Linked DNA regions of Homo sapiens: region 2 is linked to region 1. Evidence: fine-mapped expression QTL. Tissue or cell type: tibial nerve. Region 1 holds a variant in brackets; the other region holds the start of a gene. All regions are shown on one strand. Distances are between the middles of the regions.

Evidence for each region. PIP is the estimated chance that this variant, and not a neighbour inherited with it, causes the effect.
Region 2: CD22 starts here. The variant in region 1 is fine-mapped to the expression of CD22 in tibial nerve (GTEx, PIP 0.93).

Annotation. Positions count from the first base shown.
Region 1 is chr19:35,284,964-35,295,748 of GRCh38, forward strand. It overlaps MAG (myelin associated glycoprotein), which reads left to right and starts at 7,198. Exons shown (of 11, transcript NM_002361.4): 1 at 7,198-7,241; 2 at 9,272-9,327; 3 at 10,423-10,491; 4 at 10,650-10,785. The coding sequence starts at 10,446. HAMP (hepcidin antimicrobial peptide) reads left to right here. Exons shown (of 3, transcript NM_021175.4): 3 at 1-180. The coding sequence ends at 79. The variant C/T (reference allele first, on the strand shown) is at 7,092.
Region 2 is chr19:35,322,887-35,333,671 of GRCh38, forward strand. It overlaps CD22 (CD22 molecule), which reads left to right and starts at 6,301. Exons shown (of 14, transcript NM_001771.4): 1 at 6,301-6,344; 2 at 9,133-9,188; 3 at 9,661-10,038. The coding sequence starts at 9,155. RefSeq lists silencers at 563-622, 10,419-10,628 and enhancers at 6,878-6,927, 6,998-7,047, 8,178-8,227.

The DNA.
Region 1 (10,785 bases):
AGACACCCACTTCCCCATCTGCATTTTCTGCTGCGGCTGCTGTCATCGATCAAAGTGTGGGATGTGCTGCAAGACGTAGAACCTACCTGCCCTGCCCCCGTCCCCTCCCTTCCTTATTTATTCCTGCTGCCCCAGAACATAGGTCTTGGAATAAAATGGCTGGTTCTTTTGTTTTCCAAACCAGAGTGTCTGTTGTCCTTTCTCTCTGCCGAGTGTCTGTGCTAAGAGCTTGTCCTGACCCTGCCTTGCAAGCACCAGTGCTTGGTGGGTCATGTGGGGCTGGTGTGTCCTGGAGGTTGCCAGGAAAGTTGGTGAAGAAAATTTGTTTCTGTTCTCCCCCTTCATGTTGCAATAATAGGGGATGAAAGTTAATGTTTCCTCTCCTTGAGATCTTCCTAAAACAGCTGTAGAAATCAGTGCCTGTAAGGCAAGCTTGTCCAACCTGGAGGCCACATGCAGCCCTGGATGGCTTTGAATGCACCCAACACAAATTTGTAGTTTCTTAAGGCATTATGAGATTTTTCCGCAATTTTTTTTTTTCTCATCAGCTGTCATTAGTGTTAGTGTGTTTTATGTGTGGCCCAAGACAATTCTTCCAGTGTGGCCCAGGGAAGCCAAAACATTGGACACTGCTATAAAGGTTCTCAAAGTAAGATCCAGGGACTCCTTTTGTAGGGCTCCTGAAGGTGGAAACTACTAAGACTTTTTTTTTCCTTTTTTTTTCCTTTTTTTTCTTTCTTTTTTTTTTTTTTTTGAGGCAGAGTCTCTCTGTGTCACCCAGGCTGGAGGGCAGTGGCATGATCTTGGCTCACTGCAACCTCCACCTCCCAGGTTCAAGCGATTCCCCTGCCTCAGCCTCCTGAATAGCTGGGACTACAGGCACGTGCCACCACACCTGGCTAATTTTTGTATTTTTAGTAGAGGTGGGGTTTTGCCATGTTGTCCAGGCTGGTCTCGAACTCCTGACCTCAAGTGATCCACCCGTCTCAGTCTCCCAAAGTGCTGAGATTACAGGTGTGAGCCACCACGCCCGGCCTACAAAGATGTTTATTTGCCTTTTTCACCCTGGTTCTCTCATGAGTATACAATGGAGTTTCCAGGAGGCTCTGCGACACCTGTTGGCATCATCACCAGATGGCTAATGGATTGTGTGCTGGTGTATCTCACGCTTTTAAATGTCCCAGTTTCTAGCCCGGTGCAGTTGCACCATCCCTGCTACTCGGGAGGCTGAGGCAGGAGGATAATTTAAGACTGGGAGTTCCAGAAGAAGACCTGGTGTCAAAAAAAAAAAAAATGGGGCAACGAAAATGAGAGCAATACAGCTTTCAAGAATGGGAGGGGCCAGGGGTGGTGATTCATGCCTACAGCACTTTGGGTGGCTGAGGCAGGCAGATCACTTGAGGTCAGGAGTTCAAGACCAGCCTGGCCAACATGGTGAAACACCGTCTCTACAAAAATTAGCCAGGCATGGTGGCATGTGCCTGTAATCCCAGCTAGTCAGGAGGCTGAGTCAGGAGAATCACTTGAACCCTGGAGGTGGAGGTTACAGTGAGCCAAGACAACACTGCTGCACTCCAGCCTGGGCGACGGAGTGAGACCCTGTCTCCAGAAAAAAAAAAAAAGAAGAATGGGCAGGAACTCAGTTCCTTGTGGAGGTGAACTATATTCCTATATGTTTCACGTGCAAAGTGTGTCCTTCCTGAGAGAATACAACTTAAGATGCTCCTGTGTAACAATCCCCCATACCTCGCTCATCTGCTATACCTGGATGGCCTCTGAAGGCCATGGGCCTCACACCTTTTGGTCTTAGGACCCCTTTACATTCTGAGAAATTATTGAGGACTCCAAAAAGCTCTTGATAAAGTGGGCTATATCTCTAGTTGCCTGATGTATTAGAAACTGAAACTGGGAAAATATTTTTACTGTTTATTTATTTATTTTTGAGACAGGGTCTCACTCTGTCGCCCAGGCTGGAGTGCAGTGGCGCGATCTCAGCTCACTGCAAACTCCACCTCCCAGTTTCAAGCGGTTCTCCTGCCTTGGCCTCCTGAGTAGCTGGAACTACAGGCGCCCGCCACCATGCCTGGCTAATTTTCATATTTTTAGTAGAGACAGGGTTTCACCGTGTTGGCCAAGCTGGTCTTAAACGCCTAACCTCAAGTGATCCACCCGCCTCAGCCACTCAAAATGCTGTGATTACAGGTGGGCCTGGCCTGCCCACATTTGATAGAAACAGACATAGGGGCTGTTATTTCACTGTCTTCTTAGCTCCCAGGAAGCAACAGCTCTCACTTGATGGTAAAGGGCATTGGTCATTCGGCCTCAATGTTGGGTGTGGGCAGGGAGTGGGAAGGCCCAGGCTGGGCGGGAGAGGGCTCCAAGACACGGCTGCCACACCCAAGGCAGGTAAACCTGACTAGAACTTCTGATTTTGTCAAGAGAAGGTGGGAATTCCTATTTTTATTAGAGATTTCTTGCTTTGACAGTATTGGCAACTGAGCAAAGCAATTTGTCTTTTAACATCAACATTCTGTGAGCCAAACGAAGCCCAGCTGGGCGCCAGATCAGTCTGGGGCACCATCAATGTCTGCCTTCGCTTTGGAATCCACAGAGGCTTGTCCTCTGGGAGGGGAGGTTTCCTGAATGAAAACTGAAGGGATAGGGAGAGGGGAGTTGTGGTGAGCTTGGCCTCTTATTAGCTGTAACATCTTGCATGCATCTTCTTCATATCCGGAGCTCCACCTCCTCATCTGTATTTTTTATTTTATTTTTTTAGTCTGGGTCTTGCTCCATAGCCCAGGCTGAAGTGCAGTGGTGTGATCATGGCTCACTGCAGTCTTGATCTCCCGGGCTCAAGCGATCCTCCCACCTCTGCCTCCTGAGTAGCTGGGACCGCAGGTGCCTATCACCACGCCCCGCTAAAGTTTTGTATTTTGTGTAGAGACGTGGATCTGGCTGTGTTGCCCAGGCGGGTCTCAAACTCATGGCTTCAAATGATCCTCCCACTTCAGCCTCCCAAAATGCTGGGACTACAGTTGTGAGCCACCATGCCTGGCCTCTCCTTACCTTTAAAAGAACAGAGGCACTGGGCGTGGTGGCTCACGCTGTAATCCCAGCACTTTGGGAGGCCAAGGCGGGTGGATCACCTGAGGTCAGGAGTTTGAGACCAGCCTGACCAACATGGTGAAACCCCGTCTCTACTGAAAATACAAAAATTAGCCAGGCGTGTTGGCGCACACCTATAATCTCAGCTACTCTGGAGGCTGAGGCAGGAGAATCGCTTGAACCCAGGAAGCAGAGGTTGCAGTGAACCAAGATCATGCCACTGCACTCCAGCCTGGGTGACAGAACAAGACTCCATCTCAAAAAAAAAAAAAAAAAACAAAAAAGGAACAGAAGCTAAGTCCATACAGGACTTAGCTTAACTGGCTCTAGAGCTGCTCAACCAAGGGAATGAGTGTGAAATTGCTTTGGAAACTGTCCAATGCTTCCTCAATGTAAAGGATTCATATTGACAGGAGAGGGTAGAGGCCTCCCTCCTGGCAGGTGGGAAACCTGAAATCAGGAATTACACTTAATGACACGGGGTGCTCTTCTCTCCTGAGCAAGCAGTTCTCTGGGGTGGTCCTAGAGAGATGGGAGAACATGTAAAGCAGAGATACTCAAATTTCAGCGTGCTCAAAATCTCCTGGAGGGCCTGCAAAAATGCAGATGGGTCCAGGCTCAGTGGCTCAAGCCTGTAATCCCAGCACTTTAGGAAGCTGAGGCTGGAGGATCACTTGAAGCCAGGAGTTCGAGACCAGCCTGGCCAACATGGTGAAAGCCCGTCTCTACTAAAAATACAAAAATTAGCTGGGTGTGGTGGTGCACACGTGTAGTCCCAGCTACTCGGGAGGTTGAGGCACGAGAATTGCTTGAACCTGGGAGGCAGAAGCTGAGGTGAGCTGAGACCTTGCCACTGCACTCTAGCCTGGGTGACAGAATGAGACTCTGTCTCAAAAAAAATTAAATAAATAAAAATAAAATGCAGATGAGGCTGGGCGTGGTGGAGCATGCCTATAATCCCAGTGGTTTACGAGGCTGAGACGGGAGGATTACTTGAGGCCAGGAATTCAAGGCTGCAGTGACCTATGATGGCACCACTGCACTGCAGCCTGGGTGACACAGTGAGACGATGTCTGTAAAACAAATAAACAAATAAACTGCAGATAGCTGGGCCTCCAGAATTTCTGATTCCACAGGTGCAAGGCGGGGCCCTTGACCTTGCATTTTGAGCAAGCTGCAGTCCTGTGGAGGACTGGTTGTGAAGCTGACACCATTGTCTGAGGGCAGCAAAGGCTCTTGGATGGATTGAGCCTCAGCTCCCATCTATGAGAGCTTTAAGCTTTAAGTGAGAGCTCCCCATGGCCGAGAGCTTCATTCTGAATTCCTGCTGCTAGGAATTCAAAACTCACATTGAAGTCCTAACGCCTAGTAGCTCAGAATGTGACCTTAGTTGGAGGCAGGGTCTTCACAGAGGTAATCAAGTTAAAATGAGACGGGAGAATCCTAATCCAATATAACTGGTTTCCTAAATCTGACAGGGTACAGTGACTCACACCTGTAATCCCAGCAGTTTGGGAGGCCAACACAGGAGGACTGCTTGAGATCAGGAATTCAAGACCAGCCTGGGCAATATAGTGAGACCCTGTCTCTAGCAAAAAAAAAAAAAAAAAAAAAAGTGCCAGTAGTCCCAGTTACTATTGAGAGGCTGAAGCAAGAGAGTCGCTTGAATCTGGAGGGTGGAGGTGGCAGTAAGGTATGATTGCACCACTGCATTCCAGCCTAAATGACAAAGCAATACTATGTCTCAAACATAAATAAATAAATAAATAAATAAATAAATAAATAAATAAACGGCAAATCTGGGCAGGGGTGAATACAGGGGGAAGGGAATGTGAAGATGAAGATGCCATACAGAGAAAGGCCCGGAACAGATCCTCACACCCCTCAGAAGGAACCAACACTGCCAGCACTTGATCTTGTTGATCTTGGAATTCAAGCTCAATTCTGGCAGGGTTTTTTGTTTGTTTGTTTGTTTGTTTGTTTGAGTCGGAGTCTTGCTCTGTTGCCCAGCCTGGAGTGCAGTGGCGCAATCTCCGCTCACTGCCAGCCCCGCCTCCCGGGTTCACGCCATTCTCCTGCCTCAGCCTCCTGAGTAGCTGGGACTACAGGCGCCTGCCACCATGCCCGGCTAATTTTTTGTATTTTTAGTAGAGACAGGGTTTCACCGTGTTAGCCATGATGGTCTCGATCTCCTGACCTCGTGATCTGCCCGCCTTGGCCTCCCAAAGCACTGGGAGTACAGGTGTGAGCCACCGTGCATGGCCTCAATTCCGGTTTTTAAGCCACCCAGTTTGTGAAACTTTGTTGTAACAGCCCTGGAAAACTGATACACCTGCTCTCTCGTAAAAGATCAGCTGATACGGCAGCACCGGCCACTGGATCTGCGGGTCAGTTGTCCCCTTAGACAGGGCACCTGCCCGCCAGTCACAGGTCCTGTCACCCAGCCCCTTCCTCTCATGGGCTCCAGCCGCCTCGCTCCCACAGGTCTCCTGGAGACCCGAGTTGCTGATGTCAGCGACTATTGCGAGTGCTCCTGTGGGACACTGTCCTCTCCCCAGCAACAGCCTTCAGTTCACACCCAGGGAGGAGATGGAGCCCCACACTGCACCAGCACACGACTCCAGCTCCAACTAGGTGGGTGTTGATGCTGAAGGCTGTGACATGCAAATACCCCCCAGGATCTCCTTGTCACCCCGACCACCACCACCAAAGCCCAGGCACCAGGCCCCTCTCTTCTCCAGGACCCAGGCATTCAAGCCCCGCCCGACTCTCAATGGTCCTTTGTCCCGGACTGGGAAAGGCACGGGCAGAGTCTGACATCATGAAGCCTGGGGTGGGGGTGGGACTCCCCCTCCCCCTCCAACTCCCCCCCAGCCCCACAACGCTTCTCTCCCTGGTCTGAGGGATTTCCCCGCCCCTCACCCCCTGGGTTCTCCCTTGAGAGCGAGGACCCCCCCTCCCCACTGCTCTGGCCTGAAGGAGGACAGGAGATGTCCCAGTGAGGCTGAACAGCTCATGGTGAAATCACTGCTGCACTTTGTCACGCCACCTCCAGCTGCCCCGAGCCCCCACCCACCTTGCAAAAGTCATGACCAAGGGGTGGAATCTGCACTCAGAGGGTCCTTGCCCAACTTGGTCAGCACAGTCCTATGTGCACCAAGCACTGCCCCGGGGACAGAAGGGTGCACATGACAGACAGAGAGGCAGATAGGTTTCTGGTGAGCCCCTGCCTCTGAGAGCTCCTGGGTTAGTGGGAGGCAGAGGCGGGCAGACCTAGGGTGCACACGGGCCAGCCTGCCAAGGCTACAGAAGGAAAGGACAGCATTGCAATGGAGGGGCCTGGCTGATGGGCGAAGATGGGAAAGCTTCCCAGGGAAGCGGCACCCAGGCTGCTGAGCCTACAGGATGGGTGAACGGCAGCCAGTGCCAGAGTGGGGAGTGCTATGGGGTGGGGACTGCTTTCCAGGAAGAATGAGCAGCAGGTGCACAGGCCTTGAGTCTGAAGGTGCCCTGGGGCTCTGGGGAACACATTCAACCACCCACACTGTTTATTAAGCTCAACTGCCTGCCAGGAGCTTGTCTACGAGCAAGGATGGATTGAGAATATCCAAGACGAAGCTTCTGGCCTGGTGGAGGTCACGTTCTCATGAAAGGAGTTGGTGAACACGGAAGGTCATTTCAGATGGCAAGAGGAGGTGACACTGACGTTGAGGGTGGAAAGGACCTGTCTCCTCCTGCTGCCCACCTAATGTTGCCACCAAGATTCCCTGAGGACAATGCCTCTGTCCCTCAGCCTGGGACTTCCAAAGAGATTAGACTGCCCCCCCACCCCCGGGACCCAGAATCAGGGTGTACAGGGATGGAAGATGGGGAGAGAGCAAGGCAGCCACTCCCGACCCCTCCAGGAAAGAGCTAGGAGAACCCAGGCGTCAGGCTGCCCAGTCCGAGCCCCGTGGTGACAAGGGCCCCTTTGTGCCCCCCTCCCC[C/T]GGGGGTAGGGAGGAGCTGGGCCCTGGAGGCAGGCGGCCCCTGGCACCCAGGGGGAGGGGAGGGGCTGGCAAGTGGGGGCCTAGACCCTGGAAGGCAGGGGACTGCGAGCTGGGCTGGCGGAGCAGAGGTGCAGAAGCAACTGAGTCCAAGTGAGTATGGTGGCAGGGAGGCCAGGGCAAGGGGAGCAGGGCACCGGGGCAGTGGCACCCAGACGTGAGCAGGGTCAGGTGCTCTGGGTGAGGGAGCATCGCTGTGCACCGCTACTGATTTAGGATGCAGGAGTGTGTGGCTTGGGGCTGCTTTGGGGATGGGCTCGGACCATCGCTGGGGCAGCGATGGGGCTCTGGGAAGAAACCACAGAGAGAAAAAACAAAGGGCCCCCCCTCAGCACCCCTTGTGGGTGAAGATTTTGCAGGAGAGGTTTCCTTGGGGTTCCCGAGTGCGGGGCAGATGGGGTGGAGGAGGTCTGCATCTGGCCGAAGAATGGAAGGATGTCCAGGTGATCAGACACCTGCAGGCTGCAATCTGGGAGGTGGATGGGGGCAGTGGGCTGTTAGTGACTGCATTCTAGCACCTGGGCACATAGCAGGTGTGTGTGTGTGTGTGTGTGCGTGTGCGTGCACACACATGGCTGCCCATGCACCTTCCTCTGTAAGCCTCAGTCGACTTTTCTTCATTAATCCCCACTAAGGACACTTTTTATTTTTCGTTACTTTTTTTTTTTTAAGAGACGGGACTCTCACTATATTGCCCAGGCTGGTCTCAAACTTCTGGGCACAAGAGATTCTCCCAACTTGGCCTTCCAAAGTGCTGGGTTTACAGGCGTGAGCCACTGCGCCCGGCCCCAACTACAGAAACTTTTTAGATGCATTTGTCCTCATCCCATCCTTCCCTTGGCATTTTAATCCAACAGATCTGCTGTACATATGTTTATGGACTGTGGCCACACACACTGTAATAGCTGAGGTTGATTTGGCCCCCATCCCGAGAACTTGTTTTCCCCGCTGTTAAGAGTGCATGGTCTACCTGCTTGTTTCATGTCTGCCCGGGCACGTGCTCATCCTCATCTGCATCTCTCTCCTGTACCTTCCTGTCACAGGTGCAAGGGCAGCGTCGGCCAGGTGTCCATCGGCGCGTGTCTGAGTGGACGCGTCTATAGCCATCCTCAGTGTGTGTGTGCAGTTCCTTGCATCTTTGTTAGCCTGGCATGCATGCTGGGCTGTGTGTGTGTGTGTGTGTGTGTGCTGAATGCCAGGGCTGTGTCTGTCCAGGTGTGTGTGGACAGCAGCAGAGGCATTGCATGCACGCCTTGGGAACTATGTGAGTGCCAGCCCATCCCTGTGGGCACAGGGGTCCCTGTGCCTGTCTGTGTGTTCAGGGTCCTGTCTGGGTGTCTGTATGAGTCTCCGCTGCGTGTGCCTGCCCCTTCTGGCTGGGGCTACATCTGTCACATTTCATCCCCGCGATTGGATGTGTCTGTGCATGTGTCTCTGTCCGTGGGAAGAGGGCGGTGAAGGCTGGGAAAAGCAATTGCTTGGAAACCCTGGCTGCAACCCCAAGGCAACCCATGGAGCAGCAGGGTGCCAGGGGCTCGCTAGCCCCCACCCTGGGCCTTCCTGGCCCTGCTCAAAGGCCAGCCAGGAGTGCCTGACCCCTTTCTTACTCCCCACTTACCCTGAAAGCCCCCCGCAGGCTAAAACACCCTCTCCCCGAGGGAACAGGACTCTTTTGTACCGGGGACCAGCTTCTGGTGAGGGTGCGGACACCAGGGGCCGTCTGTGGGGTGGGAGAGGGCGGCAGGAATTCACGCGGCATGTCGGGAATGCTGATACTGTGAAACCCAGTCATTGATGGCTCTGGGTCCCTGCCCGCCACCCCCAGGCCCCGGCCGTGGGACATCTGCTCCCTCACTCCACTCGCCACACCCCTCAGTCTCACCCCCGTACCCCGATGCGGTCGTTCCCCCTTCCCTCCCCACAGTTCTCTGACACCCCAGCTTGGAGGGAGTTGTTGCCAGAGAGTGGCTTCGAGGCTGTGTGGGAGGGTCCCAGGCACAATGGGAGGGCCACATGGGCAGCCTGACAACAGGTCACAACCCATGCAGGAGATACTGAAGCGGGGGTGGGTTGGGTGCCTCAATCCCGCCCCCTTGCACCTGAGTGACTCTTGTTGCATGCAGGTTGTCTGGCGGCTTCAGGTGGACCCAGAAGACGTCCCCAACTCAGGGAGATTCAGGTGAGGGGCAGGGTACCAACTCTCTTCCCTTGCTTCAGCTTTGCAATGCTGGCCCTGCCTTGGCTCTCTGGTTCTTACTTTCTGGAGATCTCCAGGGGCATCACGGTGACAAAGATAATGATCAGCACATCATCACTGCATAGAGACAGGACATGCAGCAAAGACTGCAGACCAACTGTGTGGCCTTGGGCGAGTCACTTAACCTCTCTGGACCTCAGCTATAAAATGAGGATAATGCATCTTCCTCAAAGAGATCCAATGAGTTAAGACAGCAGAATAAGCAGTGAGGGCTGGCACATGGCCAATGCCATAGAAGGGTTTATAATTATAAGTAATAGCAGCAGGCTGGGTGAGGTGGCTCATGCCTGTAATCCCAACACTTTGGGAGGCTGAGGCAGGAGGATCGCTTGAGCCAAGGAGTTCAAGACCAGTCTGGGCAACACAGAACATGGCAAGACTCCCATCTCTAAAAAAAATAATAATAATAACCAAATAAATAAACTAAAATAAAATTAGCCAGGCATGGTGGTGTGTACCTGAGGTCCCAGTTACTCTGAAGGATCGCTTAAGCCTGGCAGATTGAAGCTGCAGTTGAGTGAGCCACGATTGCACCACTGCATTCCAGGCTGGGTGACAGGGCTGAGACCCCATCTCAAAAAGTAAAAAGTTAAAAAATATCAGCAGACCAGGCATGGTGATTTACACCTGTAATCCTTTGGGAAGCCAAGGCAGGAATATTGCTGGAGGCCAGGAGTTGAAGACCAGCCTGGGCAACATAGTAAGACCCCACCTCCACAACCATTTCCACAAAAAAGAAGAAAAATTAACTGGGTGTGGGGTGGCGCATACCAGAAGCTGAGACAAGAGGATAACACGAGCTCAGGATTTTGAGGCTATAGTGAGCTGTTATTGTGTCACTGCATTCCAGCCCGGGCAATGAAACAAGACCCTGTCTCAGAAAAATAAGTAAATAAATGCATAAATAAATAATAATAGCAGCAGCAGCTAACATATGAATGGGCCCCTTCCTGAAGCCCAGATGGAACACCCCCTTTCACTTCCCCCAGCCTTTAACCCTCTCCTCTCCCTTTCCAGCGATCACTCACTCGCTGTACAGAATGATATTCCTCACGGCACTGCCTCTGTTCTGGATTATGATTTCAGGTAACGGCTGACAGGTGCTGGGGACCTAAAGGCTTTGGCCCCTGAGCAGGTTGGAGGTGGGTCCCCGCAGCCCCCCGGCATGTGGTTGGGGATGGGAGCCGGAGGGGGTGATCGGGTAGGACGTGTCCCTGAGCCTCAGCTCTCCTGCTTGCCCGCAGCCTCCCGAGGGGGTCACTGGGGTGCCTGGATGCCCTCGTCCATCTCGGCCTTCGAAGGCACGTGCGTCTCCATCCCCTGCCGCTTTGACTTCCCGGATGAGCTGCGGCCCGCTGTGGTGCATGGTGTCTGGTACTT
Region 2 (10,785 bases), 38 kb after region 1:
AGTACATTGATTTTTTTATTATGGCTAGTAGATATTTAAGAATGTTAGCACAGGTCTTTGAATAAATTTTGCTTCTAAGAGAAGTTACTATTTATTCTTAATTAGATGGGGAGGACAGTCTCTTTGAAAAGGAACTTCTACTTTACTATTTACACTGGGATTACCAGCATGTACCGCCACGACCAGCTCATTTTGTATTTTTAATAGAGACAGGATTTCACAATGTTGGCCAGGCTGGTCTCGAACTCCTGACCTCAGGTGATTGCCCTCCTTGGCCTCGCAAAATGCTGAGATTACTCCTGACCTCAGGTGATCGCCCACCTCGGCCTCCCAAAGTGCTGGGATTACAGGCGTGAGCCACCGTGCCTGGCCTGTTTCCAGTTTTTGGCTATTACAAACAAAGCTGCTGTGAATAATTGTGTGCAGGTTTTTATGTGGACATACGTTTTCATTTCTTAGGGATAAAATGCCCAGGAGTGCAATTGCTGGGTCATCTGGTAGGTATATTTTGTTTAGTTTTTCAGGAAACCGGCAAACTGTTTTCCAGAGTAGCTGGACCACTTTGCATCCCCACCAGTCGTGTGTGAATGTTTCAAGTTCACAGCATCCTCACCAGTGTTTGGTGTTGTCATTATTGGTTATTTAATTTTAGCTGTTCTAAAGCGGTATCTTGTCATGGGTTTCAATTTGCATTTCACTAATGGCTGGTGATGTGAGACATCTTTTCATGTGCTTATTTGCCTTCTATATACCTTCTTCAGGGAAAGGTGTCATCATGTCTTTTGCCTATTTTCTAACTGGACTGTTTTTTATTTATTTATTTATTTATTTATTTATTTATTTATTTATTTAGAGACAGAGTCTCACTCTGTCGCCCAGGCTGGAGTGCAGTGGTGGGATCTCAGCTCACTGCAACCTCCGCCTCCTGGGCTCAGGTGACTCTCCTGCCTCAGCTTCCTGAGCAGCTGGGATTATAGGCGCACACCACCATGCCTGCTAATTTTTGTATTTTTAGTAGAGATGGGGTTTTGCCATGTTGGCCAGGCTGGTCTTGAACTCCTGACCTCAGGTGATCCACTTTGCTTCCCAAAGTGCTGGGATTACAGGTGTGAGCCATCGTGCCCAGCCTGATTTTTATTTTATATATATATATATGTACACACACACACACAATATACATACACACACATATATGCACACATATGTGTGTTAAAGCTGTATGTAAAGCTGTTATATATTACATATATACTACATATATAACAGCTTTGCTGAGATATAATTCACATACCATAAAACACACCCATGTAAAATGTCCAATTGAATGGTTTTGGGTCTATTCACTGAATTATGCAACCATCACCACAACCAGTTTTAGAACATTTCATCACCCCAAAATAATCTCACATCCATTAGCAGTCACTCTTCATTTCCTCTTACCTTTCCCACCCCACCCCAGCCCTACGCAACCGCTACATCTACTTCTGTCTCTACAGATTTGCCTTTTCTGAATATTTCACGTGAATGGAATCATACAATATGTGACATTTTGTGATTGGCTTCTTTCACTTAATGTTTTCAAAGTTCATCCATATCCAGGCGCCGTGGCTCACGCCTGTAATCCCAGCACTTTGGGAGGCCAAGGCGGGTGGATCACCTGAGGTCAGGAGTTCAGGACCAGTCTGGCCAACATGGTAAAACCCCGTCTCTACTAACAATATGAATAATTAGCTGGGCGTGGTGGCGGATGCCTGTAATCCCAGTCACTCAGAAGGTTGAGGCAGGAGAATCGCTTGAACCTGGGAGGCAGAGGTTGCAGTGAGCCGAGATGGCACCACTGCACTCCAGCCTGGGCAACAAGTGAAACTCGGTCTCGAAAAAAAGTTCATCCATGTTGTAGTATCTATCAGTACTTCATTCCTTTTTATTATCAAATAATATTTTATTGTTTAGGTCTCCCATATTTTCTTTATTCATTCATCTCTTCATGGACATGTGGGTTGTTTCTGCTTTTTGGCTTTCATGAATAATGCTGCTGTAAACATTTGTGTTCAAGTTTCTGGGTGAACATGTTCTTATTTCTCTTGGTTATATATGTAAGAGTGGAGATGCAGGAGTGTATGGTAATTCTATGCTTAATCTTTGGAGGAACTGTTTTGAGACTTTTTTCCAGAGTGGCTGGACAATTTTATATTCACACTAGCAATATATAAATGATTTAGTTTCCATACATCTTTCCAGTATTTGATACTATCTTTTATTTTAGCTGTTCTTATAGATGTTAGTAGTGATATCTCATCATGGTCTTAACCTGTCTAAAGGCTAGTGATGTTGAATATCTTTTTAGATAATTATTTTCTATCCATATATCCCCTTGGGTGAAATTTCTCTTTATATCTTTTGCCAGTCTTCTAATTGGATGATTTGATTTTTTTATGTAGTGTTTCTATGTTGAATTTGAGAGTTCTTTATATATTTGTTCTAGATAGGAGTCCTTTGTCAGATATGTGGTTTGCAAATATTTTCTCTTAGTCTGTAATTTGTCTTTTCATTCTCTTAACTAGGTCTTTTACAGAGCAAAAAAAAATTAATTTTGATGAAGTTGGATTGATTTTTTTAGGGATCATGCCTTTGGTGTCATGTCTAAGAACACTTCATCAAGCTCTAAGTCTCACAGATTTTCTCCTATGTTATCTTCCAGAGGTTTTTTGTTTTTATTTTATTTTACTTTTTAATTAAGACAGAGTTTCGCTCTGTTGCCCAGGCTGGAGTGCAGTGGCAGGATCTCAGCTCACTGCAACCTCCGCCTCCCAGGTTCAAGTGATCCTCCTGCCTTGGCCTCCTGAGTAGCTGGGACTACAGGCACGCACCACCCAACTGGCTAATTTTTTGCATTTTTATGTGGTTGCTTTCGAGAATTTTCTCTGCCTCTTGTTTTTAGAAGTTTGACTATGATGTGTCTTGGCATGAATTTCTTTGGGTTTATCCTGTTTGTGATGCGCTCAGCTTCTTGAATCTGTAGACATATGTTGTGCGTGTGTGTTGTCAAATGAAGATAATTTGCAGCCATTACTTCTTGGAATATTTTTTTAAGGCCCACCCTCCTTTTCCTCCCCTTCTGGGACTTCAATGACAAAATGTTAGATCTTCTTTTATTATAGTTACTCATGTCCTTGAGGCTTTGTTCCATTTTCTTTCATCTATTTTCTTTCCATTGTTCAGAATGGGTAATTTCTATTGTTATACGTTTTGTTTCACTGCTTCTTTCTTCTATACTCTCCATTCTGCTATTGAGCCCATCCATTATGGTTTTTATTTCAGCTCTTGTATTTTTTAGTTGTATTTTTTAGTTCTAAAGTTTCCATTTGGTTCTTCTTTATATTTTCTATTTCTTTGCTGATACTTTTTATTATTTTATTTGTTTCAAGCACATTTATAATTTCTCAGTGAAACACTTTTATGATGGCTGCTCCAAAATCTTTGTCAGATAATTCTAACATCTGTGTCGTCTTGATGTTTGTGTCTGTTAATTATCTTTTGTTATTCAGTTTGAGAATGCCTGATTCCTAGTATGACAAGTGATTTGCCATTGAAGTCAGGATATTCTGGGCACTGTGTTATAAGATTCTGGATCTTCTTTAAATATTTTGTTTTAGTGGGCTTCCCTTTATACTGCTCCAGCGAAATAAAGTAGGGCACTGCCTGATTGCTTCCAGACAGGGATAAAAGTCCAGGTTCTCCATCCAGCCTTTCCTGAACCTGGGGGGTTGGGAGAGATGAGGCCTCCATGTTATTGTTTGGTAAGGGTAGAAGTTCAGGTTCCCCACTAGGAATCCATGACAACTCCCTGGCTGGGAGTGGGAGGGATGCTTCATTACTGCTCCCTATGTGGCTTTCACTGACACTGTGTGTGGCAGAGAGAGGGGGGTGCTTGTTACCACTGAGTGGTGGCGAAAGTCCCAACTCTCCACCAGGCCCCCTTTGACACTACTCCAATGGGGCCGGGTGGAATGCCTCATTTCTGCATTGGGGTGGCAGTGGATGTCCAGGCTGCCCACATGGTTTCCACCAACACCACATCGGGGGAGGGTGATCCCAGTGGGGAGGAATGTCCCAGCTCCAACTCTAGCATCACTCTGGCTGAGTATGGGAGTGGCCTAGGGTTCTTTGTTACAGCCTGGTGAAGGTGAATGTCTAGGTTTTCCATCCGGCCTTTGCTGACAAGGGTGATGATGGAACTTGGATGGAGCGGAGCAGGTATGGACTAAAAGAGCTCTGTCTTTCTAGGATGCCCCTTTCCTCGTTCTTTGGCTAGAAAAGCATAGTTTTGCTAGAACTTGTTCTGTTGGGACTTTTTCTTGTTTGTGCCCCTTGGCATTTTCAGTTGTTGGCTTCTCCAGTATTCAGCCTGAGATATATGAGGCAAAGAGAAATCCCAGGGAATTCACCACCATTCCTTAAGTCCCGAGGTTCCTAACCAGTCTGCTTCTCTCCATCTTTCAGTCTTCTTATGCTTGTCTTGTCACGTTCAAGGTTTTCAGTTATACTTGGCAGAATAAATAAATACATCTACTCCATCTTTCCAGAACATCACTGCTTTTTGTTCATTTTATTTATTTATTATTTACTGAGACAAGGTCTTACTTTGTTGCCTGGGCTGGAGTGCAGTGGTGCTATCATGGCTGACTGAAGCCTTGAACTCCCAGGCTCAAGCGATCCTCCTGCCTCAGCCTCCCAAGTAGTTTGGACCACAGGCATGGGCCACCATGCCCAGCTACTTTTCATTTTTTGCTTTTGTTGACTAGCCCCACAGAGTTTTGCTGTGTTGTTCAGGTTGGTCTCAAACTTCTGGCCTTAAGCAATCCTCTTGCCTTGCTCTCCCAAAGCGTATTACAGGCATAAGTCACCACACCCAGCCCTATCGGTGCTTTTGGAAGAAGGTGTTCTTCCCTCTCTCTGTTTCCCTCCCTATGGCCAGCTGCCCATAGAGGGCAGTGGTGCTGGAGTGAAGACCTCTCAGCGCATCCCTCTTCATCTGTAGGATGTGCATGGCTTCCAATGCTGTCTGTTCTGCTCCTGAGACACTCGCTGGCTACAGGATTATAAAGGTGATGAGGTTTCAGCCTAAAGACTCTCCATTCAATAACACTTCCTACAAGATATCTTTTTTGTTTTTTTGAGACAGGATCTGGCTCTGTCACCCAGGCTGGAGTGCCACAGCGCGATCTGCTCACTGCAACCTCAGCCTCTCGGGCTTAAGTGATTCTCCTGCCTTAGCCTCCTGAGTAGCTGGGACCACAGGCGCCCGCCACCACACCCAGCTAATTTTTGGATTTTTTTTTTTTTTTTTTTTAGTAGAGATGGGGTTTTACCATGTTGCCCAAGCTGGTCTTGAACTCCTGAGCTCAGGCAATCCACCCGCCTTGGCCACCCAAAGCGCTAGGATTACAGGCATGAGCCACCATGCCCAGTCCTACAAGATATCTTTTCTTTTTCTTTCTTTCTTTCTTTCTTTCTTTTTTTTTTTTTGAGACAGAGTCTCACTCTGTCACCCAGGCTGGACTGCAGTGGTGTGATCTCTTCTCACTGCAGCCTCCGCCTCCTGGGCTCAAGTGATTCTCCTGCCTCAGCCCCCTGAGTAGCTGGGACTACAGGCGCCTGCCAAAACACTTAGCTAATTTTTTGTATTTTTAGTAGAGACGGAATTTCACCATGTTCGCCAGGCTGGTCTCGAATTCCTGACCTCAAGTGATCCACCCGCCTCAGCCTCCCAAAGTGTTGGGATTCCAGGCATGAGCCACCGCACCCGGCCGAGATATCTTTTTCCTCCTCAATATCTATGTGCTCCTCCCTCAACCCTTGGGGGCTTCAGTGTAGGTGGTCAGATTCCCCACCATTTATGCCTATGATGAAAAGAGTGGAAATGGTAATAACTGGATGGTGTCACTAAACTACAAATACTTTCAGGTAGGCCTGTGCCTTTTTCAGCGGGCTGCAGTTCTCCTGCTTGGCTTGAGTCATTCGCATTTCCTGAGAGCTGGGTAGAGGGGGAGTTGTGGAGGAGCCCATTCTGAAACTGATCTGATATTGCAAACCCATACACGGAAAGGAAGAACTGCCCATACGTATTCGAGTCTTCCAATCTGACTCCGAGCCCGCATCCCCCTCAATCGTCTCTTTTCCCCACTCCCCAGATCACGGTGCTGCTTGGTCCCCCTCAGAGCCATAGAGAAGCAGGGGGTGTGGCCATGGAGGGGAAACCTCTGTCACCAGAGACTTTACTGTACTTCTCCTTTTGCTCTCAGATGCTGCCAGGGTCCCTGAAGAGGGAAGACACGCGGAAACAGGTAAAAATCATTTTGCTTTTATTTTGCATTCAACAAGCAAGTTATTACGGAACAGCAGTTATGGGCCAGGCATACCTCCCAGAGCTGGGAACACAGTGGGGACCTCCCTGGCTCTCTCTTACCGGTGTTACAACAGGTTGTAGACAGACCCCTGTCTTGAGCATCCTCCTTGCCAGGCCTGCTGAGTCTTCTGAGAGTAGGGTAGGTTATTGGATGCCCAGGAGGGAAGAAGGAGCCAGGGAGGTCAGCCCCAAGGTTCTGCAAGGCCCTCAACAGGCCTGGACTGAGGAGGTCTGGACAGCATGGCCCTGTCCTGAGCCTCTGTGCATAATAACTGCTGTCCCTAACCTCCACCCCACCCTCAGCCTTCCAATTCCCGGGCCTGGGGCCCTACTCCTGTGCTCCAGAGACTCCTGGAGCTCCTTGAGGCAGCACACAGTCCTGCTCTGGAGGCGCCCATCTCCCACTCATGCTGGGATGCTCCAGCCCGTCCCAGAGCAGGTTGTGGCTGGAGGGTGCTGGCAGAGGAGGGACAATGGCCCGGCTCCTGGAGGCAAGTGTTGGCTGCAGGGAACGGAGTCTAGTCCTTGCCACAGCCCTTGTTACCCCTTAGGTAACCTTAAGGGGATTTCAAAGAACTCTGGCTCTGCAACCCTGCTAAGTTTTTTATGGAACATGTAAAATAGATCCCATGGCCAAAGAAGTATGGACAATGTATTATACTATACTCTAATCCCCATGTCTAGAGATTAATGGTGTAGATAGAGTTTACTGAAAGGTTTTTAAAGTCCTGCAGTAAAGAATCTTACTTAAGCCAGGTGCGGTGGCTCACGCCTGTCATCTCAGCACTTTGGGAGGCCAAGTTGGGGGGATCACCTGAGGTCAGGAGTTTGAAACCAGCCTGGCCAACATGGTGAAACCCCATCTCTACTAAAACAAACAAACAAACAAACAAATCAGACGGGTGTGGTGGCACATGCCTATAGTCCCAGCTACTCAGGAGGCTGAGGCAGGAGAATCACTTGAACCCTGGAGGCAGAGGATGCAGTGAACTGAGATCACACCACTGCACTTCAGCCTGGGCGACAGAAGAATGAGACTCTGTCTCAAAAGAAAAAAAAAGAATCTTACTTAACTCTTTTACCCTGCCTTTCTCAAGTGTATGTGACCTTGAAGATGTTTTTTGCATGTGACATGATGAGTACCTGCGGGGCTGATGTCAGCTCTGCCTGGGGAATCTGCCTCAGCTTCAGACCCTGCACCCCAAATTCATGCTTAGCCCAGGCCAGACCCCCTTCCTGCTGTCGGCAAGCAGCTTAGCTTTCCGCACACCCATGAACAGATACCCAGCAGCCTTTGGCATGAGCCATGTGGCCCGAGGAGATAAACAGACAGAGAGAGGAACATTGATGCGTGTGAAATGTTGGCAGGTGAGTGGGAGGGGCTTGGGTTGGTGCTGAGACCGGAGACACACTCTGCTGTCACATCCTTCAGGGTCCCCGGGGGCCAGCACGGAGGGCCATGATCATGTAAATTGGGACTTAAATTTAACTCTATGTAAATATAACTCTATGCAGAGGTCAGGGATGGTAGAGGACAAGCTCACTGCAGAGAAAGAAAGAAAGATGGGCAACAGTTGCAGAACCTAACCCACAGATAGGTTTTGTTTGACCAGCTCTGTACATTTTTAGTTTATTTTTTATCTTTTTGAGACAGGGTCTTGCCCTGTCGCCCAGGCTGGAGTGCAGTTGCATGATCTCGGCTCATTCCAACTTCTACTTCCCGGGTTCAAGCAATTCTCCTGCCTCAGCCTCATGAGTATCTGGGATTACAGGTGTACGCCACCACGCCTGGCTAATTTTTTGCATTTTGAGTAAAGATGGGGTTTTGCCATGTTGGCCAGGCTGGTCTTGAACTCCTGACCTCAAGTGATCTGCCTGCCTTGGCATCCCAAAGTATTGGGATTACAGGTGTGAGCCACTGCGCCTGGCTCACCCATACTTTGTTACTGGTTTTAGAATTCCTTTTTACCTGGTCTTTCAAACCAAGTTTTGACCATGTCTGTCCCTGAGTATAATCCTTGATGAGTAGCACCAGAGAGAGCTCCACGTTACCCGGGGCCTGGCATTCAAAGCACTCAGTGGTCTGGTGCCACTCAAAGCCTGTGAGCCAGGCAGGAAGTTTATAAAATTAGAGATGGATGAATGGATGGATGGGAAAAAGCAAGCAAGGGAGGAAGGAAGGAAGAAAGGAAGGAGTTCTGGGAAGAGAGAGAGGCTGCCCCCGCAGGGCTCTCAGTTTGAAGGAGAGGTGCAGCACACTCAGAAAAAACTCCCGGCCAGGAGTGGTGGCTCACACCTGTAGTGCCAGCACTTTGGGAGGCCAAGGCTGGCAGATCACCTGAGATCAGGAGTTCAAGACCAGCCAGGCCAACATGGTGAAACCCCATCTCTACTGAAAATACAAAAATCAGCCAGGCGTGGTGGCACCTGCCTTTACCCAGCTACTTGGGGGGCTGAGGCCAGAGAAACGCTTGAGCCTGGGAAGCAGAGGTTGCAGTGAGCGGAGATCACACCACTGCACTCTAGCCTGGGAGACAGAGCAAGACTCTGTCTCAAAAAAAAAGAAAGAACTCCGTGAGCATCCCAAATGCCACATCCCCATAATGCAACCAGACCCGGTCCTCCCGGATCCAGGGGAAGGGTCGGAGCTCAGTGGGTGAGCAAGAAAAGCCACGTGGAAGAAGTAAGCGGCCAGATGGCTCAAAGACAAACTCTCCCCTGCTCAGGCTTGCACCCAGACACGACACCATGCATCTCCTCGGCCCCTGGCTCCTGCTCCTGGGTAAGGACTGTGGCCTGGGCTAGTACTGGGGTTCTGGGATGTCAGTGGGCACTGGAGGAGGAGGAAAGACCCAGGCAGAGAGGCGTCAACATAGGGTAGGGTGGGGGCAGCGGTGTGTATAGATAAATGTACATACAAATATATATGTTTCCCATATATACATACACTTCTCTCATTGCATCCTGCTGTCTTTGTGTATCTCTGTATTTCTCCCACTATCTTCAGAGGGAATTCTTTAGTCTTTAGAAAGCTCTCTGCTGGGTGCAGTGGCTCATGCCTGAAATCTCAGCACTTTGTGAGGCTGAGGTGGGAGGATCACTTGAGGTCAGGAGTTCAAGGCCAGCTTGGACAACATAGCAAGACCCCTATCTCTAAAAAGAATAAAAAATTAAACAAATTTTAAAATAAAAAATAACTTTTAAAAGAAGGCTCTCATGCCCCCTTAGTAATGCTTTCTGATCACTGTGGTGAGTTCTAGAATACTTGGCTTTCTCTGACTCAAGTAAATGGGTTTTTGAGCACCCTGAAACCCTCTACGCCTGGGAGGGGGCCTGCGTCTGGATCCCCTGCACCTACAGAGCCCTAGATGGTGACCTGGAAAGCTTCATCCTGTTCCACAATCCTGAGTATAACAAGAACACCTCGAAGTTTGATGGGACAAGACTCTATGAAAGCACAAAGGATGGGAAGGTTCCTTCTGAGCAGAAAAGGGTGCAATTCCTGGGAGACAAGAATAAGAACTGCACACTGAGTATCCACCCGGTGCACCTCAATGACAGTGGTCAGCTGGGGCTGAGGATGGAGTCCAAGACTGAGAAATGGATGGAACGAATACACCTCAATGTCTCTGGTAAGGCCTTCGGGGAGCGGGTCCTCTGCTCTGGGCAGGGGTGAGTGGGAGGCAGGAAATACCTGACTCCTGGCACAGAGCTCACAAACCGAGCTTCCTGCAGAGCTCAGGCAGGGGACGCCAGCGGATGACGATGGCGATGCAGCAGCACTAGACAGAGCTGCGGGACCTCGGATGTCCCATCTGACCCTCAGTTCCTGCCCCTCTGGGACCTGGATTCCAAAGTTATCGGATCTCCTGATCTTTCCCTCTTTCTTTCTCACCATGTATTTTTCAGCTTTTGTGACAAACTCGTGTTTGGCCTTAGTACTGGAACCATCCAAGCACCGCATTCCTTTAGTGGGGTGGGTCTGCATGTAACCAGCCTCAGCTCTCCCCCAGGCTGGACCGCCCCCTTCAGACATTGGGGTCTGAAGCTGCATCGCTCACCCCAAACTTAGGGCTGCTCAGAGCTCCCTATAGAGGAAACTGGGTGTGGAACGGAGTAACCACACTCCCTAGGGCAGAGGCCCCAGACCTGTGTTTGATGGGTCAAATCCACCCCTACATGTGCAGTGCCATAACTGAGCCTGTGTTATAAAAATCATAAAATGTTTGTTTTACTTTTTTTCCTCTTCTTTTCCCCTTCCCCTTCCTTTCCCTTTTTATGAGACAGGGTCTCGCACTGTCATCACCCAGGCTGGAGTGCAGTGGCGCGATCTCAGCTCACTGCAGCCTTGATCTCCCGGGTTCAAGCAATCCTCCCAC